2 linked regions of the Homo sapiens genome follow. The protein of the gene in region 1 binds, or shares a complex with, the protein of each later gene. Each region holds a gene or a part of one and is shown on either strand. Other genes may lie near its edges. The genes, in order: NCAPH2 and NCAPG2.

Region 1 (11,952 bases):
GAGTCAAGGCTGCAATGAGCCAAGATCAGGCCACTGCACTCTAGCCTGGGCAACAGAGCAAGACCCTGTCTCAAAAATAAATAAATAAAATAAGATAAAAATAAACCCTGCTAGTACTCTCTGGGGGTATTAAAACAAAAACCCTAAGAAAAACTTTAAAACACAAACAGTGGGCCGGGCGTGGTGGCTCACGCCTGTAATCCCAGTGCTTTGGGAGGCCAAGACGGGCAGATCACGAAGTCAGGAGATTGAGACCATCCTGGCCAACATGGTGAAACCCCGTCTCTACTAAAAATACAAAAAATTAGCCAGGCATGGTGGCGGGCGCCTGTAGTCCCAGCTACTTGGGAGGCTGAGGGAGGAGAATGGCGTGAACCCGGGAGGCGGAGCTTGCAGTGAGCCAAGATCGCACCACTGCACTCCAGCCTGGGGGACAGAGCAAAACTCCATCTCAAAAAACAAACAGAAAACACAAACAGTGGTCACGGGGTACTCTTCTTCAAAACTAGGAAAAATGAATAGAATATGACAAATATCCATGCCATCTACCAACTAGAGTGAAGAAACGTTAACATTTCCTCTGTATGCATCAGGTTGATTTTGTTTTAATGAATAAAAAGGAAGGATTTCTTGGCTCTAGGCTGGGTACAGTTGACCCCGGGGGTTGAGGGAGGCAGCAATGGCCTCCAGACACTCCCTCCTACCAGCCCGACTGCAGAGAGGCGCCTTGGCAACCGGCGGCCATCCCAGGTTGCCGTGAGCTCGACAGGGCTCAAATCCTTGGACGCCAGCCCACTACTCTGAGGAGCATCAGTTCTGCTCAGAGAGGGGAGGAACACAGAAGCTGCTCTTCAAAAGGGCTGGTTGCAGGACGGGCTGCAAGACAGGTGGGCTTCTGCCCCAGACCAGTGGTCTGGGGCCAAGGCCATACCACTGTCCTCCTTGTGCAAGGTGACTCGGCCCCAGAGCCAGGGTTGCCAGTTCACAGCTCAGGTTCTGCAGGCCTCCATGTGGGTCCCACCTGCTGCGGGCTCCTGGACTCCTTGGGCTCCAGAGCGGCCTTGGGGGCCGAGGCCTCAGGAAGCTCTACTGCCTCCTCTGCATCCTCGTCCTCGCCCCCACCCAGGGGCATCGGGCCTTCTGGAGAGGGGCCTAGGCAGGGAGCAAGAGAGTGATCAGCTCCAAGGAGTGCCGAGACCAGACGGCACCAAAGGGACCCTGATGGCTACTTCCTCCCTCAGCTTTAGTCACGGAGCCCAGAGGATTTGGCGGGTGCCTTGCACCATCCTCGTCGTGCTCCTGTGCTCTGTGCTCTGCTTGGTTCATTTTATTTCTTAGCAAATGTTCCTCTTTAAATGCAGCCATCCACATCTGCCCAGAGAGGAGACCCAGGAGGGCAGTCAGAGGGCAGTCAGTGAACCAAGATGGGCTGAGGCTCACCGGGGGCTGTGGCTGCTTCCCCGGGGCGAGGCCTCACTCCCATGGGCCACAGAAGGGGCATGAGGCTGGCAGCTGAGAGCAGCCCCTTGGAGCCCTGTCCACTGGGTGCTGCCTCCCTGGTCCCCTCTTTGGCTGCCCTGCCAGTCCCACCGGGGAGCTCTCTTCTCACCTGGCTCCTGGGAGAAGCCGAGTGCTGGGACAGGGCTCCTGCACACGGAAACTTCCATTGGCTGCTCCTCAGTCCTCCCGGTGTCTGGGAGAGACAGGGATCAGACAAGGTCAGCCCAGCCCCTCTCCAAGATGGTCCCTGCCCGGTGTTCAACAAGCCTCTCCAAGGGGCCAGCAGGAGGGCAGAGACCAGCAGACTCCAGGCCTTGGGCTGGGGGGAGACAGCAGGGCCCTGAGCCAGGCACCAGGTCTCTGGCACTGAGACCATGTTAACTTGTAATCAAGGCACAGCAGATGGGTGGGATGAGCACCAGCCAACCTGTCTAGACTAGAGCAGGCACCCAGAGACAGGGAGCTCCCAAGACCAGAGGTGGCAAGCACAGGGCACCCCACAAGAGTCCAACCAGAAGACCCTCCCTTCCTTCCCACCAAGCCCCCCGCATCCAAGCCCTCACCCTTCTGGGTCCCTGGCATGGGGGAAACGCCCGCTGGTTCCATGGGGGACATGCCCTCTGGCTCCAACATGAAGGCCCCTCTGGGGTGGGGAACGCACGTGTTCATCCTGAAATCCTTCCGGCTGGCCAGGACCTCACCCTGACGGCTGTGCTGGCAAAAACACGCCTGCTGTAGAGACCCTTCCCAGGCAGGCCTCCCTCCCCGTCGCTGGGCTCAGATCCCTACCTGTACAGGGGATTGTTGTTCTTCTCCATTTCATCAGGGGCCACCAGGGCCATGGGCAGGAGGGGGATGATGAGGACCTCCTGCATGGAGGCCAAGGGTGGGTGAGCCAGGCACCCTTCCACTCCAGTGGAGAACAGGACCCACATGGGGCAATGACACCTTCCCACACCCCATCAGCTCAACACAGCCCCAGGGAAAGTGCTGACCTCACCCCAGCCTAAGAGGGGCCAGGCCAGGACTCACACTGGGCGTCTGATCATTCTTGAGATCCACGTTAGTCCGGGAGTCAGGGAAGTCATCCAGCGACAGGAACTGGAGGGAGACAGAGCTCGTGGGGGCGGAGCCCAGGCAAACACACAGTGGGCGGGGACCACATGCCAAAGAAACTCACCTCATTCTCTGCCTCCTGGGGGACCCCGGAGCTGGCAACCCCATTGGCCCTGTCCTCCTGCACCGAAGAGAGCTGCTTGGCCCGCCTGAGAGAGAAGCACATCCCGTGGGCATCCCAGGAGCTGCAGGGGCCTCCCTGGCCACATGCAGGGCAGCACAGTGAGTGGCTGCAGAACTCACCTCTTTCCAGAGATGAAATCAAGGGCCTGGTAGACGAGTGAGTAGAGGTATTCCACCTGGTGACCAGATGCAGGCAGTGAGGACCCAGAAAGGAGGGGCCCACCCCCAAGGCCTTCCCAGCTATCCATCGGTGCCCCCACGAGGCCTGGCCACCACCACCAAACCTCCAGTACAAGAAACCACCAATTTTGGTTCCAAAAATAATTCTCAAATCAAACCAGGAATCTCATGAGAATTACTTTACCAGCTGAGGCCACCCACATCTCTCCTCTGCCCTCTATGGTCCACGCAGCCGCGAGCGTGGCCTTCTCAACGTGTGACCCTGACAGCACTGTGGTTCCCACAGTGTGCCTCATCACACGGTCCTTGGTGGTGAGGCCCCTCGTGCTTGGCACCCACTCTGCCGACGGCCTGCAGCCCTGCTGCTCCTCCGCCCGTGTGCTCCCGCCAGCATCACCCCAGCCCCTCCTCCTGTCCTGGCCCTGCCCTGTCCCAGCTCCTGCCGCCACGGGGCCTGCAGGACAGAGCCCGTCACTCACTTCCTGTCCTTCTCCTCCACAGAACAGAGGCCCCACCGTGAGGGTGGTGGTTGTGGACTTTCTAGGTGCTGACAATGAGGCACCCACAAGTAGGGGACGGGGAAGGGGAAGGTGGGTGCAGGTGGCACCCTGGGCTGTGTCCAAGTGCACACAGCAGGTGTCATTCCCCCAAGACAACAGAGCCCAACAGCACAAAAGACCCTCCCTGCCTGGCTGTGCGATTTTAAATTAAAAATTGTTCTTGGTGTTGGAAGGTGCTGAGGAATTGGCTGAGACCTGAGGAGAGAGGGAGGTAGGTCACAGACGGGACGACCACTGCACCTGCCCCAGAAGGAGAGCCGACTGTGGTCCCACTGGCCACCAAAATGCCAAGACCAGCGTCAAGCAGGGCCCACCTTCTTACTGTAGACGCAGGCAGAGCCCTGGATCAACAACGCTGCCTCAATGAAGTTCATTGTGGTCTTGCCTTCGTCAAAAGAAATGCAGATCTGATCCAGCTGCAAGAAACAACACAAAGACAGGGGGAATCCAAGGCCCAGTCTGCACTCGCTTCTTCCAGGGCAGCCCCACCCATCTTTGGTCTCTGCCCAGCACCTCCCGAGACGGGCAGCTCTAGCTATGCTGTGGGCTCACCGGTTGTCCCTGGTATTTCGGGGCAGAGACAGGTCTCTGTGTTTCCCCCTACTTCCTATAACAAAAACCTGTTTTGGAAGTGGAAGGCCCCCAGGGCACACTGTCTACAAACAACCAGGGCAGCACAGCGGCTCCCTCCACAAGGCGCCAGAGGCTGACAGACTCCAGCAGGAAGATCCCCGACACAGAGAAGAAAAGGGAACCTCAGGGGTAGGAAAGGCAGAGATAAAATGCTGAGGTCTCCATCCTCTGAGCAGAGAACTCAGGAAACAGTTACAGGTGAGTCGCCATCCTTCCTCTGCTCCCCTCAGCCTCCCGGAGCCCCAGCTCCTCTGTCACCCCTTAAACGTCAGTGCGCCAGGCGCTCCACCCCCCGCCATGCACATTCCTTCATCCCATGCCCAAGCTGCCAACCATAAGCCAATGAGCCCCAAACCCAACCCGACCAGCTCTCTCTCCTTAGCTCTGGGGCTGCATTCATAGCTGTCCACAGAGTACATTCAAATGTCCCCAAACACTTTACTTCCATACTTTACCCAACATCTTCCCCAACGCTGGCTCATCTCCTGTATTCCTTCTCAGCAAATGACACTTTAAAAAAAAAAAAAAAAAAAAGGCCGGGTGCGGTGGCTCACACCTGTAATCCCAGCACTTTGGGAGGCCGAGGCGGGCAGATCATGAGGTCAGGAGATCGAGACCATCCTGGCTAACACGGTGAAACCTCGTCTCTACTAAAAATACAAAAAATTAGCTGGGCGTGGTGGCGGGCGCCTGTAGTCCCAGCTACTCGGGAGGCTGAGGCAGGAGAATGGCATGAACCTGGGAGGCGGAGCTTGCAGTGAGCCGAGATCGCGCCACTGCACTCCAGCCTGGGCGACAGAGCGAGACTCCGTCTCAAAAAAAAAATGTTTTTGTAGAGACAGGGTTTCTCTATGTTGCCCAGGTTGGTCTCAAACTCCTGGCCTCCAGTGATCCTCCTGCCTCAGCCTCCCAAAGCACTGGGATCACAGGCATGCACCACCGTGCCCAGCCACAAACGACACTTTGAAGCCCCTAGGTGTCTTTCCAGCTCTTCAATTTTGCATTTCCATCTGCCTGGAACACCGACCCCCAGCTGTCCCCACGCAAACTCTTTTTCAGAGCCCCTCCATTCCTGGGGCCTCTGTGCCGCTCCCTTAGTGTGATCGTGTCCCTTAGTGAACTGTGTGAGCAGCATTAGTGTAATTCCAGCCTTCTGTTCAGTGCCTGACACTGGTGTCCAGTAAATATTTGATGAACACATGCATAGATAATGTCAAAGCTAAGCCTGAAAAACGCAGAGGCTCACCAGACAGATGAAGGGAACGTGAAGGCAGCTAGCAGAGACTGGACACGTCTCTTCAGGAAAATGAGCATGATCTAAACATGGCCAAAGCATGGCGCGTGCTGGGGAGAGGCAAGATTTTAGGCACCATGGTAGCACGAAGGAGTGGCAGAGGCTGGGAAGCCATCCCCAAGGGGAGTCACTTCCATTAGCTCTTGAAGGATAAAGGGTGTTTGTCAGATCTGGGAGGAAGGGAGAGGAAACAGCAGCATGGTCGTCTACGGAGTGTAAGGACCTCGGGGGTGTTCAGGACCTGAAGAGCTGGTCCAGAAAGAAGGGAACATGGAGGAGATGGCGGCCTGGAAGCTGAGCTGCAGAAGTGGCCCTTCTCTCCAGTGACCCTCAGCCTGGCTGGCTTGCCCACTCCCAAGACACTACTGGGCTTCACTTGTCTTCTCACCTCCCCAGGTTGGACCTGCCATCTGAGCCCAAACCCACATGTTCAGCTGCCTTCTTCAAACATCGCTTGGATGGCTTCACCAAGATTCATACTGAATGCATCCACACTGAACTCCAAATAGCCCCCAACCCACCTGCCCAGAAACCCAGGGGTTCCTCTCCACAGTCACCCCCATTCTGGCCCCACCACCTCCCCTTTCACCTCTGCACTGACAGGGCTCCTCCTGCCCTTCACTCCCCTCCCGTCCACTCTCCACGCTCTGCTCAGTGCCTCTGTTTAGGATTTTGGGTTTTTCCTAACAGTGGCAGGAAAAACCCAAAATCCTAAACGGAGCCAGAGGGAGGCCTCCATGCTGGCCAGCCTCCCTCTCCAGCTGCCTGCCCTCCTCTGCTCTATGGTCCCAACTTGGAACCTTCTGTTTTGTTTTGTTTTGTTTTGTTTGAGACGGAGTCTCACTCTGTCACCCAAGCTGGAATGCAGGGGCGCAATCTCAGCTCACTGCAACCTCCGCCTCCTGGGTTCAAGTAATTCTCCCTGCCTAAGCTTCCTGAGTAGCTGGGATTATAGGCGCCCGGCTAATTTTTGTAAAAACTCCAATCCTTCCAACACCAGGTTTCCTCCACCTGGAGCTAAACATTCTTTAGCTCACCATAAATAAGTAACTGCTTTCATCTCAAACAAACTAAGCCCCCCAAACTCTCCACAGGACCATACATTTTCTTTCAAATCCCTTATAAGTTTCTGGTGATTTTTTCGGTTGGTTGGTTGGTTTTGGTTTTTGTTTTTGAGACAGTCTCTCGCTCTGTTGTCCAGGCTGGAGTGCAGTGGCACAATCTCGGCTCACTGCAACCCCTGCCTCCCAGGTTCAAGTGATTTTCCTGCCTCAGCCTCCCAAGTAACTGGGACTACAGGCATGCACCACCATACCTGGCTAATTTTTTTTGTACTTTTAGCAGAGACAGGTTTTCACCATGCTGGTCAGACTCATCTCGAACTCCTGACCTCAAATGATCCTCCTGCCTCGGCCTCCCAAAGTGCTAGCATTACAGGCGTAAGCCACCTCGGCCTCCCTAAGTGCTGGGATCACAGGCGTGAGCCACCTCGGCCTCCCTAAGTGCTGGGATCACAGGCGTGAGCCACCTCGGCCCCCCAAAGTGCTGGGATCACAGGCGTGAGCCACCTCGGCTCCCCAAAGTGCTGGGATCACAGGCGTGAGCCACCTTGGCCCCCCAAACTGCTGGGATCACAGGCGTGAGCCACCTTGGCCCCCCAAAGTGCTGGGATCACAGGCGTTAGCCACCTCGCCTGGCCATCAGTTTCTGACTACACAAAGTCACACGCAGGGGTGGAGGCTGGATTCTGATCTGCCAGGAACCACTATCATTCAGAGTACATCTCTAACGCCTCTACTAACAAGGTTTTTGTGAGGACTCTGCATTCATATGTGTAAAGCACATAAAACAGGTGCTTAACACAAGTAAACACCAAATGCATATTTATTACACCCCCATGCGGTTACTCTCTTGGACCCGTCTTCCCATGACAGAGGAAGTCCTACCATAGTGGGGATTATCATTTGCTTTGCTTGGCACTATTTTTTCAAAGTTTAACATGGTTCTTGGCACACAATTCACAACTAACAACAATGAATAAATAAATGGATAAAAGAGAGTAGGATCATGACAGTACTAGAAGAACATTCTGGCCAGTGCAATGGCTCACACCTATAATCCCAGCACTCTGGGAGGCCAAGGCAGGTGGATCACTTGAGCTTGGGAGTTTGAGAACAGCCTGGGCAACACAGTGACACCCCATCTCTACCAAAAATACAAAAAATTAGCCAGGTGCGGTGGCACATGCCTGCAGTCCCAGCTACTTGGGAGATGGGAGGATCACTTGAGCCTGGGAGATCGAGGCTGCAGTGAGCCATGATTGCACCACTGCACTCTAGCCTGGGCAACAGGGCAAGAACCTATCTAAAAAAAAAAAACAAAAAAAAAAAAACAAAGGACAAAAAAAAGAAAAAGAACATCATGGTAGTGTGTGGAAAATGACAGAAGGAAAAAGATAATACTAGAAACCAGGAAATCAGGACTTCAAGCTGCAGAGGTTTGGAAGAGCAGACATAAGAAAGCAGGAAGGGAGCTGACCAAGCCAGGAAGGAGATTTACCAAGTGAACAGGTGTCCTCATGGACCCTGCTTGATGTGAAAACCTGAATCCACAGGAGCTCTGCCCAGCACAGTTCCCCGTATTTTCTCAGCCAACTATGCATGAGAGCAGAGAAGTTTGGTCATCAGATCACATGTGCATTTAACAAACACTTTAACGTCCACACCTATGTGCCAGGCACTCTACTAAGCAGACAAAAGAGGGCATAAGTATGGTCCCTGCCCTGGCAGAATTCACATTCTAGGGTGGAGACAGGCCACAAACAGGTAAATGAGTTGAAGAATGGCTTGTGGCCAGTCGCAGTGGCTCACACCTGCAATCCCAGCACTTTCAAAGGATGAGGTGGGCGGATCACGAGGTCAAGAGTTCAAGACCAGCCTGGCCAACATGGTGAAACCCCATCTCTACTAAAAATACAAAAATTAGCTGGGGCCAGGCACGGTGGCTCACACCTGTAATCCCAGCATTTTGGGAGGCCGAGGCGGGTGGATCACGAGGTCAGGAGACCAAGACCATCCTGGCTAACATGGTGAAACCCTGTCTCTACTGAAAAATACAAAAAAATTAGCCAGGCGTGGTGGCGGGCGCCTGTAATCCCAGCTACTGAGGAGGCTGAAGTAGGAGAATGGCGCGAACCCAGGAGATGGAGCTTGCAGTGAGCCGAGATTGTGCCACTGCACTCCAACTTGGGCCACAGGGCAAGACTCTGTCTCAAGAAAAAAAAAAAAATTAGCCAGGCGTGGTGGCAGGCGCCTGTAATCCCGGCTACTCAAGAGGCTGAGGCAGGATCGGACGCGGTGGCTCAGGCCTGTAATCCCAGCACTTTGGGAGGCCGAGGCGGGTGGATCATGAGGTCAGGAGATCGAGACCATCCTGGCTAACACGGTGAAACCCCGTCTCTACTAAAAAAATACAAAAAATTAGCCGGGCGTGGTGGCGGGTGCCAGTAGTCCCAGCTACTCGGGAGGCTGAGGCAGGAGAATGGTGTGAACCCAGGAGGTGGAGCTTGCAGTGAGCCGAGATTGCACCACTGCACTCCAGCCTGGGCGACAGAGTGAGACTCCGTCTCAAAAAAAAAAAAAAAAAAAAAAGAGGCTGAGGCAGGAGAACTGCTTGAACCCAGAAGGTGGAGGCTGCAGCAAGCTGAGATTGCACCACTGCACTCCAGCCTGGGTGACAGAGTGAGACTCCATCTCAAAAAAAAAACATATAAATAAATAAAATTTTTTTTGGCTGGGCGCGGTGGCTCATGCCTGTAATCCCAGCACTTTGGGACACCGACACGGGCGGATCACCAGGTCAGGAGATCGAGACCATCCTGGCTAACACGGTAAAACCCCGTCTCTACTAAAAATACAAAACATTAGCCGGGTGTGGTGGCAGGTGCCTGTAGTCCCAGCTACTCGGGAAGCTGAGGCAGGAAAATGGCGTGAACCCAGAAGGCAGAGCTTGCAGTGAGCTGAGATCATGCCACTGCACTCCAGCCTGGGCGACAGAGTAAGACTCCATCTCAAAAAAAAAAAAAATTTAAATGGTTTATGATAAACATTCTAAAGTGTGTAAGGTGCTGAGATGGAGAGGACTATTTTAGATAGGGTGGTCAGCTGACATTTACACTAAGACCTTAAGAATGAAAAGGACTCAGTCAGCCAGGCGTGGTGGCTCACGTCTGTAATCCCAGCACTTTGGAAAGAGGCAGAGCTGGCTGGATCACCTGAGGTCAGGAGTTTGAGACCAGCCTGGCCAATGTGGCGAAACCCATCTCTACTAAAAATACAAAAATTAACTGGACGTGGTGGTGCATGCCTGTAATCCCAGCTACTCGGGAGGCCAAGGCAGGAGAATTGCTTGAACCTGGGAGTCGGAGGTTGCAGTGAGCCAAGATTCTGCCATTGTACTCCAGCCCGGGCAACAGAGCAAGACTCCATCTCAAAAAAAGAAAAGAAAACAAACTCAGTCATTGAAAGAATATTCCCAGCCAGGTGTGGTGGTGCACAGCTATAGTCCCAGCTACCTGAGAAGCTGAGGCAGGAGGACTGCTTGAGCACAGCAGTTTGAGACCAGCCTGGGCAACACAGTAAGATCCTCCTCTCTGATTTTTTTTTTCTCCTTTTCCTTGCCATATGAAGTCCCTCTTTATTTAAAAACAAAAAAGAGGCCGGGCGCGGTGGCTCACGCCTGTAATCCCAGCACTTTGGGAGGCCAAGGCAGGCGGATCACGAGGTCAGGAGATCGAGACCATCCTGGCTAACACGGTGAAACCCTGTCTCTACTAAAATACAAAAAAATTAGTTGGGCGTGGAGGCGGGCGCCTGTAGTCCCAGCTACTGCAGAGGCTGAGGCAGAATGATGTGAACCCAGGAGGCGGAGCTTGCAGTGAGCTCAGATCGCGCCACTGCACTTCCGTCTCAGAGTGAGACTCCGTCTCAAAATATATAAATAAATAAATAAAAACAAAAAAGAAGATTCCCAAGTGGGGGCAGAAAGCATGAAGATCTTCCACCAAGAAAAAGCTTGGAGGGGCCATAGGTTGACTGGTTCAAAAGAACAAGATACAAAACAGCCCAAAATGAGGCTAAAATGGAGAGCAGAGCCAGGTTCAGAGAAGGAAATTTGGGTTTTATTCTGGGCATAATGGAAAGCCACTGAGGGGTTGATTTTAGGCAGAAAACAGTGCTGTGGCCAGATTTTAATTTTTAAGAGTCACACTTGCTGCTGGTTGGAGCACGAATTGGACGGGACAAAAACAGGGATAAGGGAACCCAAATAGGAAGGTTTTACACAAATCCAGGCCAGAGACAATGGTGGCCTAGACCAAATAAAATGGACAACAGATGAATTCAAGTGATATTCCGGTGGTATAACTGATGGAATTCATGGATGAACTGAGTGTTAAGCATGGGGCTTCACTATAGCCACATTTAGCTTTTGCTTTTGGTTGAACAGCGGTGTCATTTTCCGAGATGGGAAAAGCTGGGGTTTAAGCAGAAAAATGAAGAGTTCCACTTTAAATATGTTAAATGAGATGTTTGCGTGACACCCACTAGATGTCAAGAGAGCAGCTGGATATGTAAAGTAGATTTGGAGGAAAGATCTAGGATGGAGCTGCAGATCTGGTAGTTGTCCTAATACAGGCAATATTTAAAATCATAGAAATAAATGACACTTCAGGGTAAATGCATCAGAAGATGACCTAGGCCCCATCCTGAGGAACTCAACACTTAGAGACTGGATAGAAAAGAAAAATCAGGCAATGAAATAGGGAAAAAAAATCCTACCACCATGTTTCAAAAAGAAAGGAGTGGCCAGTCCAACAAATGCTGACTTATGTCCCTTGGATTTGGTAGAATGGAGATCACTGCTGATCAAGACAAGAAACATTTAAGTGTCGTGGACGCCAGACTGAGCTGGGCTGAGGAGTAAAAATGAAGCGCAAATATGGAGCAGACAGCTTAACACAGGTCTAGACAGGGCTGTCAAACATGGAAGAAACACTAATCGCTAACAGGATAGAGCATGGCAATAGCTTGAAATTGGTTTGAAAATCCAAGATAAAAAATTCCTCTGACATCGTGATCCAGACCTCTCAAACACACAAGCATGCTCGCAATAACTGCAATAAAAGCAATAATGCTTTCTAGTCTATTCCACTACGTTAGAGAAACGGCTGGTCACCACCCACTCAATCATTCACGGCTCGCTGACGGGTAGAAACCTGCAATGACAGGTCCACGCTAATCCAACAAGGGATGATTTGGGGAGGCAGAGATGGAGTTTGAAAAGAAGCAGGGAGCCCGAGGACCTGCGCGGCCAGAGCGCCAGATAGCCATAGGCGTGGAGACGGTGGGGCGCCCACAGCCCCGGGCCCGGAGCCCCCGCCCCGCAGCCCCACCCGCCGGCCCACCCCGCGTCACTCCCCCGCCGCCCTTACCTCCTCCAGATACTCGCCCAGCTGGGCCGCCACGTCCACCTCCCAGTTCTTGGTGA
Region 2 (12,112 bases), on another chromosome or scaffold:
CCCACTGACTGGAGCCACCAGGATCCCATGAAACACAACTCAGACACCTACCAGCTCAGTCCATTCATACCTGGGCCACACATTGTGCCCCTCACCTGCTATGACCCAAAGGCTCCAACCCCACTGCACTGCACCCTCCCCAGGCCCACCGTGCTCTCCAATGCTCTGTATTCCCCTCTGCCTTGCTTGCCTTTTTCTCCTCTGTTCTACCTCATTTTCTTCCTCTTACACACAGAGGGGCAGGTGTACCTTGGGAGCACAGGCACCTACTCCCAACTATAGAATGTAAATATTTTTCAAGGTAAAGTGCCATGCTTACTATAGTATTTATGCATTTCTTACTGATTTAACATATAAAATTATGCTACTGTTTTATTAGGTTCCTGTTTTTAACATGTCACTGGCAAAATTTTTTAGTGTTGTCCCTCTAACTCCATTTTCCCCATAATCTCTCTGGGTTATTTATTTATTTATTTATTTATTTATTTTAACCAATTCTGCAGAGTGCAGTGACTGTTGGTAATGCATGTGTGGGATTACAGCAGAACTAACTGTACTTGGAAAGATCTACCTGATAGGCCCCAAACTGATTTAAATTCTTATCAAATTGAACTATGGGAAACCATCATTATTATATAAAATGGCATTTCTGTCATTCAACTTGATGAAACCACGTGATGCACAATCCTACACATTTTCATTTTTACACGTAAGAGCCACACGGTGACTAGGTACTAAGCTGAACTGTTAAGTGTTAATAAAGCTTATTGATAAACTAGAGTTAATGCCTCATTAGTATAAGGACTAATTCAGTATTCTCCTGAGATGTCTGCTGGCTTTCCAGCAACACTGCAAAGGCTGGTTGGCACACAACGGGTGGCTGGAAACAACGCACCCCAGAAGGGCACCTGTCATTGTGGCCACCAGTGTGATTTTGAGTTGCTATTTTTACCTCTGATTTTCAATTTAGTTTTCTGTGATTTTGTTAACATTATGGTATGCACTTTGCAACAACAATCTTTTAGACTTTAAAATATGTATGTACTGCATTTCCAATACAATCCATATACACTGCTACTGCTAAAGCAGACATTTATATATTATCTAACTAATTTGCTCTTATAAACACTTCTATGGTGATGAGATGCCTATGAGTTTGCGATTATTTTTAAGTTTACAGGATATCATTTTATAATACCAAAACATGTTATAAGCTCATTTCTCTTATAAAGAAAAATGATTTCTTAAATGTTGCCAGTAACAAATTCATTATTAGATTCCTCTAATTCTTTGTCACTAATTTGATTTTCACCACATAATAAGAACAAGTGAGACAAGTGTGCCAAGGGTCTCCTGCCCCAAAGATACTTTCGTATTTCAGAGTCAGTGCCTCCAATGCTGGCTTCCTCAGAGATGTGTCCTAGGCCCTTTTATCTGAAACTCTACAGAGATAACTGCAGGCATTCCCATGACTTAGGCTTCCATGCCCAACCTGTCTCTAGCTCAGCCCTTTCCCCTGGTATCCAGACGTGCATGTCTGACTACTGGCCATCCGCTGGTGCACATCCCACCACCAGTCATCTGGTACCTCCAAAATGGAGCCACATTCTCCCTTGAATCTGCCCTCTTCCCACGTTCATGAGCTTGCTGAATGGTACTACACAGTCAGACGCCTGGGCCCTTCCCCACCATATCCATATCCAATCAGTCCAATAGTGCCATCACTTCACTACCAAGCAGCTTCCCATTTCCAGTTCCTAATTCAACCATCATTTTGAAGAGCACAACCTAAGAGGTTAGCCTTAAATATGTCCCTTTGACATATTTCTCACTTGTAGTCAGAGGAATATTTCCAAAAGGCAAACCATATTTTTCTCCTTACCTCTATTTTGTCCACTAGTTCTCTCTCCTTCTCTTTTGTTCTCTTCCTCCCTTGCCTACAGCTCGCTCCCTGCTTCAAGCACCCACCGTTCTCAAGATAAAGTCTGAATTCCTTAAAATGGTAAAGACTCGTGTAGCCTAGCCCCCAGCCTCATCTTCTGCCTTCCTGCTGAACTTCAAGTTCAAACACAACAAACCTTCTCTAGTCTTCAGAGTGACCTTCTTTGTTAGATGGGTCCTTTCCCCCAACATCCCTCTTTGACTGGTTAACTTCTGTTTATCTTTTACATCTTAGCGTAGCCCACCAGCAGGTAGATTTGAGTATAAAGGGTTTTGTTTTCTTCTTTCAAATAAACATTGGTCGCTAAGGATTCACTGAGATAACTATGTTTCTTTTGGGGACATAATGACTTTAGAACATATTTCATATTCACAGTCAAAAATCACAACAAAACTAAAACATGAAACTTACATCAAGTTGAACAAATTGCAAAAACTCTCCAACCAGCTCCTTAGACACGGCTTGTACAAACGTCTCACGTTTTTCCATGACAGATGGCACTGTTCAAATGGCATTTATTTTGTAACCCTAATGGAAAACACAATCATACTGAAACACTTGCAAATATATCTTTTCCTGTAAGATTTAATTTGATATTAACATCCAAGAACTGCAAGAAAATTCCTCAACCACGTATGGCAGACAGTTTCTAAAAACATTCTGACATAAAACACGCTATAATATCTGAAAAACAATTTACTTATTTCCTTTACTGGGGATGTGAATAACATGATATTAATGATATTTTATCAACAATTGTTAATAAAATTACCAACTAAGGAGGGAGAAATCCAAATAGCCTTAGGAAGCTCACCACCATCTCTCCCTTTTTAGTACCTTAGCAAGATGCTGGCTCGGCAGAGCTGAGTTGATTCAACAAAAGAACAATCTGATCCCAGCTGCAGATTCTGAAGATGCTCCCTTTCTAAAGGCCATTCCTCCATCAAAAAAATCCCACTGTTAGTGTCATCTTGTTATTCAAAGTGAGATGGAAAACAGTGGCCCCGGGGGTCACCTGGGATCTTGTTAGACTATGCATTAGGCATGCTCAACCACAGCACCCTCCTCCCACCCCTTCGGGATAATGAGAGCTCAGGGGACTTTGTATACCCTCCATCCTGCCTGTGTTTTTCCAGGAAATTCTATTTCGCATTCACAATACCTGGTGCTACTGGTGCCCTACTGAAAAAACATCAACCTAAAGATGAGGTAATAGCAAATGATGGAACACATTTGCAGTAGGAGCCCCCTCACTTTAAAAATAAATGAAAACCACCTGCACCATTATAAATAGAGCAATATGGAAAATTATTGCCAATAATTATGGGGACAGAGAGTCATCTTAAACATATAATACTAGATTTTAATGTCCAAATTGAACAAAGCAAAAATAACCTCAGTTTAATGACTCCCGAAATAAGTTAACAGTGAAGTCTGGTCATCTCATTCCTCAACTCAAATGGCTGAACTATGAACTACGGTCATGGACCACATAACATTTCAGTCAACAACAGACCACATGTATGACCGTGGTCCCATAAGATTATAATGCCATATTTTTACTGTGCTTTTTCTATGCTTAGATATGTTTAGCGATGCAAATACTTGCCATTGTATTACAGTTGCCTACAGTATTCAGTACAGTAACATTCTAGGAGCAGTAGGCTACACCATACAGCCTATGTGTGTAGGCTACACCTCTAGGTGTAGGCAAGTCCACTCTGTGATGTTCATGCAATGATGAAATTGCCTAACGACAACGTGTCTCCCTCTTTAAATCAAGCATGACTGGCACATTTTTCACTGACAAAGAAAATGGGGAGGGAAGGGAGAGTGGCCAGTAACAAGCATAATGAATAGTGGCTAGGACAAATTCATGATTTTAGAAAAATAATCCAATAAGGTGCAGCAAACACATGGAATCATACATCTTCGCCCGGCAAGTCTGTGAACACTCTCCACTTTTTCATAGTTCTGGTCACTTTTCTTGTTTGCTCTATTTCCAAGTGTACCTCTTTGGCATGTTAGTCCAACTTACAGTAATACACTTCCTCTAGACTACCAAACTTATTCCTATATTTCCCATTTTCCCTCTTATATTAGTGACTGTAATTTTTTAATGGTTAATTTTTCAATCTATCTCCCAAAGTGGCAATATTCCATGTTTCTTGTACCATATGTGCATAAGACCTCAGCCCTGCAGCCAGAATGCTACTTTCAAGGTAAGGAGTCATCTCACCATCCAGTTATCAGTCCGAAGAGCAGGTTACTCTTCGCACAGGAGGTCTGGTACTAAATCAAGATGAGCATTAAAAAGAAGAAATCCCTGTTACCTTCTCACCACCTGTGACTTCCCACTCCGTCCCCAAACTCCTTCCTCATGGACACAACAAGAGGCACCAAACCAGCAACAAGAGTTCAGGAGACTGATGTCTCTGAGGACAATGCCCACGTCCACAGCTGGGGAGATACTCTCTGAGGGCAGTGCCTACACCCAGGGCTCAGGGGGACTCTCTCTAAGGGCAGTACCGACACCCAGGACTGAGGGGACTCTCTCTGAGGGCAGTTCCCATGCCCAGGACAGAGGGGGTCGCTCTCTGAGGGCAGTGCCCATGCCCAGGACTGAGGGGACGCTCTCTGAGGGCAGTGCCCATGCTCAGGACTGAGGGGGTCGCTCTCTGAGGGTAGTGCCCATGCCCAGGACTGAGGGGACGCTCTCTGAGGGCAGTGCCCATGCCCAGGACTGAGGGGGTCGCTCTCTGAGGGCAGTGCCCATGCTCAGGACTGAGGGGGTCGCTCTCTGAGGGTAGTGCCCATGCCCAGGACTGAGGGGACGCTCTCTGAGGGCAGTGCCCATGCTCAGGACTGAGGGGGTCGCTCTCTGAGGGTAGTGCCCATGCCCAGGACTGAGGGGACACTCTCTGAGGGCAGTTCCCATGCCCAGGACAGAGGAGGTCGCTCTCTGAGGGCAGTGCCCATGCCCAGGACTGAGGGGACACTCTCTGAGGACGGTGCCCATGCTCAGGGCTGGGGGGTCGCTCTCTGAGGGCAGTGCCCGCGCCCGGGGCTGGGATTTTCCTCCGACACGGACAAGAAGGACGGGCGTCGCTGAGCTGGGTAGGGGGGATGGCCCGGGGTCGCCAGTTCCGTCCAGTTCCGTCAGAGGCAGCACTGCCCGCACGCAGGTCGGCCGCCTCCTTAGGGGAGGGGAGGCTGGGACCCCGACCAGCCGAGGAGGGGCTTCCCGCCCGATCCCTGCTACTTCCCAGCCCCTGCTCTGAACCCAATCCCGGCTCGGCACCGCAGCTCTTACCTGGGCTCGGGGACCCGCCGTTTCCCGCGCTCGGACCAGATTCAAACGCACCCGCCGGCGCCCCAGACGGGCCCCGCCCTCCCGGTCGTCATCAGGCGCCGCTCTCGCGAGAGCTGGGGCGCCGCGAGCCTCGGGCCTCGCCCACACGCCCGGCCCGCCCCGCCTCCAGATCATGCCCCGCCCACATGCCCGCCAGTCTTCTTCCTGTCTATGCCCCGCCTCTTAGGGCGCGGCCTCGAGCAGCTAAGCCCAGTGCCCTACCGGGCACTACGGAACGCGCACGCGGGGCGCCACAGCTGGGGAACCCATGCCCGGTCCGCGCGCCGACGTCCACTGCGCGCTCGTGCGCGTCCTGGGGCCTCCGCGGAGGGAGTGCGCGGTCCAGGAGAGGGCGGGGCGCTGCGAGCGGGCGGTGTTGTGGGAAGGAGGAAGGAGAGGAAGAGAGAGAGGGGGAGAGAAAGGAAAGGCTTGGGGCGGGGAGAGGCCACAGGGCCGTGTCTGGATCCCCGGGAGGACCCCACCCCGACCTGGCCGGCCCCCGTGACCGCCCTCCCTGCCGAGGGGGCACCTGTCCGGGTGGTCCGCAGCCTGCACACGGTAGGTGCACCCTGGGCAGGTGCTTCCCCCGCAGGAGCCCCTCCGGCCAGGTGCGGCCCCTAACAGGTGCTTCTCCTGCAGTTGCTCCTCCAGCAGGTGAGGCCCCCGGCAGGTCAGCTGCCCATAGGGTGGAGAGGGAGAGGCCTTAGCGGGGACCCTCGGAGGCACCCGTGTGAAGGAGGAGTAGCAATGTCATTCAATTCTTTGGACTTAAATGCCAAAATCACATACTGATGTATCAATCTCTTTTAATTTGTGTCAGCGAATAACTTGATTGGGCGTTCCCAATTTTTGTTGAAAGCAAATTCTTAGAAAACGGTGCTCTTTACCACCGAGCTCTGCATCCCTTCGTGAGGACTTGGCCTTCCCTGGAGCTATATTCTTTCATGCTTGAGATGTCTAGAGTGGTATCTGTTTTCCTGGCTTAACTCAAGCCAGAGGTCTTGGCGAGATTGAAGTCGTTGCACTGTGGGAGCACAGCACCAACCAATAGGAACATCATGGGAGCCACAAGTGCACTTGTAAATTTCTAGTGACCACATTAGAAAAATGAAGATAAATAGGTGACATTAATTTTTAAATATGTTTTATTTAGCCTAGTATATCAAAAATATTTATGTTACTTGTTGGAATATCGTTTCAACAAGCAATATAAAATTATAGCAGGGAGAAGACTGGTTTACTAGGAAGCTTGCAACAGTGAAGCAAGGCAGGCTGCAGAGGGGAGGGAGAAGACCCACTCAGAGGATGCTGAGTCTGGGACCCTTGTCAACAGGTGGCCGATATCTAACATTGCCTATTTCATCCTGGGGCTCCAGCCACCTCTGACCTCCTCCTCCCTCCATACACAGATCCTTCCCTGCCATTTCTTGAATTTTGGTGCCCTCATCTTCTCACTGCTTTCTTCTTAGCAATTTCCTTCATATCCAAGGTGCAAACTGCCACCTTCAAGCAGTGACCTCTGCATCTGGATTTGCAAGACACGGTTATTTCTGAACTCCAGAATTTTCAACAGCTCACTGCCTACTCCCACGCTGGTGCTGACATGCATCCAAAACAGATATCGACTTCCCCTCCCACCCCTGAATCCTGCCCCTTTCCTTATGCTGGTCCCTCCTCCAATCAGCCATCTGTTCCTGGGGTTTCCACTTCCTGAGTAGGAATAATGTAACAAGTTACGCATGTGAGCTCTGAAGCTGTACCACCTGGGCTAACCTGGTTCTGTGCTCACTAGCTGGTGACCTTTGACAAGCCATGGACGACTGAGCCTCAGTTTCCTCATCTATCAAATGGGACCTACTTAAGTACTGAGCCTCCTCTAGGGGGTTGTTATGAGGCCTAAATGTCTGTATAATGCAGAGCTCAGCCTCCTCTAGGGGGTTGTTATGAGGCCTAAATGTCTATGTAGTGCAGTGCTCAGAGGCACGTGGAAGCAGGGCAGCAGGAGCGCCCAGTGCACCCCCAATGCACCTGCCCATGCAGCCACTAATGTCATAGGATCCTTTGGGTATCGCTTCACCAGCTAGAAACCTCCGTGGCCAGCGGTGCCTCTGCTAGAGTTTTGCTCGAGCCCACTCAGCCCAGCAGGTTGCACTCGGCTTGCACTACCAACCCAGATCCCACGCCTGCCAAGGGTGAGCCAGGTGCAGAGCGGCAAGGGGTATGTGAGCAAGCGAGCATGGGGTCCAACCACTGCGCACACCCAGCCATGCAGCTGCTGTGGTGGAGCAGGCAGCTCTAGGTGCCTGCACAGCTGCCGGCTCCATGCAAGGCTGTGGCTGGACCAGAGGTACCACAAGTGGCTTCCACTGCAGGCATCAGCATCTGGACAAGGGGAACATGGTGGCACCCGAAAGCTCACAGATGCCAGGAGCCACAGAGCCCCAAAGGGGGGTTACACTGTGTCACAGCCCTGGCTCGGGGAGCCCCGAGGTCTGGGCTCCCAGAAGGGCCACAGCTCTTCTGTCCTTCTCATCACCCACAGCGTGGCTAGCAGGGGGTCGTGTTTCCGGGGCGGCATGTTTCACCTCATTTGTGTTACAGGTCTTTTGGTCCTGCCGCCCCACACCGGTCCACGGCTCCTTGGCTGTCCCGGCCCCACCGCTGCTTCCCACTGCATGGGGTGGCCACTGGGCGCCAGCAGAGGGTGGGAGGGCTATAGCATTATAGCTCTGGCTTGGGGAATCCCAAGGCCTGGGCCTCTACAAGGGTCACCACTCTTCACTCCCTCAGTCTGGGAGCGTGTCACCACCCGCAGCTCAGCGACCCGGCCAGGAACCCGTTACAGCCACTTTGGCTCCCACCTGCAACTTGGCAAGCTGGCCAGGAAAGTATTACAGCTCGTTTTGCTCTCACCATTCAGCAGGTTCCAAGTTCTTGTCCCATGTCCAGGAAGAATGAGGTTTGGCAGACATCTGGAGGGTGAGCAAGGCAGAGAACAGCTGACCAAATAGCTCTCAGTGGAGAGGAGACTCGAAGTGGGTAGCTCCTATCCACAGGCACGTATGGGCTCAGAATGGAGGAAGTACATGTTGATTGGTCCATAGACAGGAGGAAGTGTGTGCTGATTGGCCCATGGGCAGGCCTGGAAAAAGCACTACTTGATTGGCTGAAAGGCATCAAGTAAGTTCTCTTTCTGGATCTCGGACTTCACCAGGAACTGGCATCCTGGCCCAGGAACTTCAGGCTGTCCCTGGCTTGAAAGTGGGGTTTCACCAGGGACCTGCCCCTTCCCACCCAGGAACCTGTCTGCCTCCCGCTGCCATCACCGTTCACTGGGAATGTGACCTTCCCCGCAAATAGATGACACTCCTCCAGAACTCAGCTCAAGCTTTACCTTCTATAGGGGTTTATTTCCTGAACCCCATAACCCTCACTGTAATGCAATCTCTTAGCCCCCTACCACAGGCCTCATCATCTCCTCCATGTCAAGCACTGTGTCATCCTTAGTCCTATATCCGTGGCGTAAGGCCTGGCACATTTTAGATGCTTGAAGAAAATATTTTCTGAATAAATGAATGAATGAGGCATGAGATCATCTGTGTTCTTAAAATCTTACAATGTGGTAAATTAGAAAAGGTTTATAGAATTAAAGGTGGACCACATGGCAAGGCAATATAAAACTAAGTTTCAAAGGGTATAAAACTTGGCAAAAATATCTTTGATAAAAATATAATATCTTTTTTTTTTTTTTGAGACATAGTCTCGCTCTGTTGCCCAGGCTGGAGTACAGTGGTGCTATCTCGGCTCACTGCAAGCTCTGCCTCCCAGGTTCACGCCATTCTCCTGCCTCAGCCTCCCGAGTATATGGGACTACAGGTGCCCGCCACCACGCCTGGCTAATTATTATTATTATTATTATTATTATTATTATTATTATTATTTGTATTTTGTTTAGTAGAGATGGGGTTTCACCGTGTTAGCCAGGATGGTCTCGATCTCCTGACCTCGTGATCCGCCCGCCTCACCCTCCCAAAGTACTGGGATTACAGGCGTGAGCCACCACGCCCGGCCAAAAATATAATATCTTTCATAGTGAGCCAAGCATAGGGTTTGCAGGGTTTTTTTTTTTTTTTAAGTTTAGTTTATTTTGAATTGCACAAGTAACACAATCACACGGTTCAAACTCACATGGCAAGAAGAGGTATACAGAAGAGTCTTCTGAGACCCCCTGGACACAGCCCTCTGCTCCAAAGGAAACCATTGTTATCAGCTTCTCAGAAACCCTTCCCTTGCCTGTATAAGAAAATACAAGATTTATAATTTAATTATAATAATTGTAACATGGAAAATAAGCTAAACCAACAAGAAGTCATTAGCTAGGAACTTCATGGAATCCTAGTTAAAATAACCATTTCAAAGCCACTCTGGGCAAAACCCCCCAGTGCAGGGCAGCTGTGAGGGCTCTGTCACACCAGCCGGGGGCCCGGAGGAGGGGTCTCCAGGGCCACACAGGGCCTGGCCCAGCAGAGTGAGCCACTGGCTCCAAGAAGGGGAGGAGTCTCTCCAGCACATAGGAAGCTGTATTAGTCTGCTCTCACACTGCTATGAAGGAATACCTGAGGCCAGGTGCAGTGACTCACACCTGTAATCCCAGTACTTTGAGAGGCCAAGGTGGGCAGATCACCTGAGGTCTGGAGTTTGAGACCAGCCTGACCAACATGGTGAAACCCCGTCTCTACTAAAAATACAAAAATTACCCAGGCATGGTGGCGTGCGCCTGTAATCCCAGCTACTCGGGAGGCTGAGGCAGGAGAATCGCTTGAACCCAGGAGGCACAGCCACACTTAGGGAGAGCTTGGGAAGGGGTGGAGGGTGACAACTGGGGGTGCTGAGACAGATACCATCACCTGGTGTCCCCGACAGTGAGGGGAGGGGAATGGTGGGGCGAGCCAGGCTCTGCAGGGCCCTCTGGACTTCTGGGGAGCTCCTGTTCAGTGCAAGTGGTTTTCTTCCCCCTCTTAGGTTGAATTCCTCTTTAACATGATCCCCGGCCTTTCGATAAAGGAATTTTCATACACAACCTGCAGCTGTGACCTAGGGAAGACTGCAGGGGCAAAAGTGAAGAGGAAAGTGAGCAGCCCCCCCCCCAATCCCCCTGGGGTCCTCGGGGACGTCGCAGCATGGGTCCAGGGATGCGGAGCTCAGGCACGGGAGGTGAGCTCAGGGGTATCTCCTTAGTGGTTACTCAAAGGAGAACAAGATAAACCATCGAGGGCAAACGTTTTCAACCATGGCTGCCCATGAAAACTACTTCAGCTGCTTTAAAAATACTAAAGGCTAGGCTTCCTGGCCAACTCAATCAAATCGATCAATTCAACCGGGGATTCCCTGGGCATTCTTTTTTTTTAGACAGAGTCTCACACTGTCGCCCAGGCTGGAGTGCAATGGCGCAATCTCGGCTCACTGCAAGCTCCACCTCCCAGGTTCACGCCATTCTCCCATCTCAGCCTCCTGAGTAGCTGGGACTACAGGCGCCCGCCATCACACCCGGCTAATTTTTTTGTATTTTTAGTAGAGACGGGTTTTCACTGTGTTAGCCAGGATGGTCTTGATCTCCTGACCTCGTGATCCTCCCGCCTCGGCCTCCCAAAGTGCTCGGATTACAGGCGTGAGCCACCACACCCGGCCTGCATTCATATTTTTTAACCTCCCCAAGTGATCCTAATGCACAGGTTAGAAGAAACTGATCTCAGAAAACATGTAAAAAGAGGAAACGTGAATGACTCGAGTATAAAATCAATAAAGCTGAGGTTCCTGCTCCAGGCTGAACCTGAAACAGCTGAGAATCGGACTGCGCGATGAGTGGCTCCTCAGCACCTGCCCAAGCCAGGCGTTAACGCGGGACAATCACTGTCCTCTTAAAGCTCATAGCATGACTGAGAAAGTGGACACAACCCAAGTGTCCATCAACAGACAAATGGAGAAACACAGTGTGGTCTTTTCCCACAATAGAATATGACTCAGCTGTAGAAGGAATGAGGCTCTGACACCCCTACAGTGCAGATGACCCTTGAAACATCATGCTCAGTGAGAGAAGCCAGACACGGAGGTCACGGATTGTAGGACTCCATTTATATGGAAGGTCCACATGACTGTAAAATCCACAGAGGCAGGAAGCAGATTAGGTGTTGCCAGAGACTGAGGAGAGGGCGTGGGGAGTGACTACTAATGGCTGTGGTTTTGGGGTGACGAAAATTATCTAAAATTAGATAGTGGTGATGGTTGCACAACCTTGTGGGTTTACTAAGGCCACACAGTTGTATGCTTAAAAGGGTAAATTTTATGGTATAAAACTGTATCTCAATAAAGCTGTTATTAAAAATTCACGGCTGGGCGCGGTGGCTCATGCCTGTAAACCCAGCACTTTGGGAGGCTGAGGCAGGCGGATTACGAGGTCAGGAGATCGAGACCATCCTGGCTAACATGGTGAAACCCCGTCTCTACTAAAAATACAAAAAAATTAGCCGGGTGTGGTGGCGGGCACCTGTAGTCCCAGCTACTCGGGAGGCTGAGGCAGGAGAATGGCGTGAACCCGGGAGGCGGAGCTTGCAGTGAGCCGAGATTGCGCCAATGCACTCCAGCCTGGGCGACAGAGCAAGACTCCGTCTCAAAAAAAAAAAAAAAAAAAAAAAAATTCACGGCCGGGCGCGGTGGCTCATGCCTGTAAACCCAGCACTTTGGGAGGCTGAGGCAGGCGGATTACGAGGTCAGGAGATCGAGACCATCCTGGCAAAACCCCGTCTCTACTAAAAATACAA

The links.
Region 2: the proteins of NCAPH2 (region 1) and NCAPG2 are in contact, whole or in part, in a cryo-EM structure (PDB 9F5W), measured with the Homo sapiens proteins. Residues at the interface, in NP_689512.2 of Homo sapiens: Pro316, Trp317, Gln318, Ser319, Leu320, Pro322, Phe323, Asp324, Ser325, Leu326, Glu327, Ser328, Lys329, Pro330, Phe331, Lys332, Lys333, Gly334, Arg335, Pro336, Tyr337, Ser338, Val339, Glu344, Gln360, Asp361, Phe362, Gln364, Trp365, Tyr366; in NP_001268861.1 of Homo sapiens: Lys248, Leu251, Gln252, His292, Ile294, His295, Leu296, Pro297, Arg299, Ser300, Val302, Lys340, Ala341, Arg342, Asn343, Ser344, Glu345, Val346, Pro388, Tyr389, Pro390, Arg393, Gly425, Glu426, Ala428, Phe429, Asp430, Thr431, Ser432, Arg437.

What each region holds. Positions count from the first base shown.
Region 1 is NC_000022.11:50,508,390-50,520,341, reverse strand, and holds part of NCAPH2 (condensin-2 complex subunit H2), read right to left. Parts: coding exon 11,897-11,952; intron 4,623-11,896; exon of another isoform or gene 4,595-4,622; coding exon of another isoform or gene 4,568-4,594; intron 3,896-4,567; coding exon 3,794-3,895; intron 2,916-3,793; coding exon 2,860-2,915; intron 2,766-2,859; coding exon 2,681-2,765; intron 2,602-2,680; coding exon 2,533-2,601; intron 2,370-2,532; coding exon 2,290-2,369; intron 2,215-2,289; exon of another isoform or gene 2,210-2,214; coding exon 2,064-2,209; intron 1,694-2,063; coding exon 1,610-1,693; intron 1,153-1,609; coding exon 1,022-1,152; coding exon of another isoform or gene 983-1,021; exon of another isoform or gene 590-982; intron 1-589. UniProt on the Homo sapiens protein: Regulatory subunit of the condensin-2 complex, a complex that seems to provide chromosomes with an additional level of organization and rigidity and in establishing mitotic chromosome architecture.
Region 2 is NC_000007.14:158,699,469-158,711,580, forward strand, and holds the start of NCAPG2 (condensin-2 complex subunit G2), read right to left. Parts: upstream 5,337-12,112; 5' UTR 5,256-5,336; intron 4,235-5,255; exon of another isoform or gene 2,780-4,234; intron 2,471-2,779; 5' UTR 2,432-2,470; coding exon 2,354-2,431; intron 1-2,353. UniProt on the Homo sapiens protein: Regulatory subunit of the condensin-2 complex, a complex which establishes mitotic chromosome architecture and is involved in physical rigidity of the chromatid axis.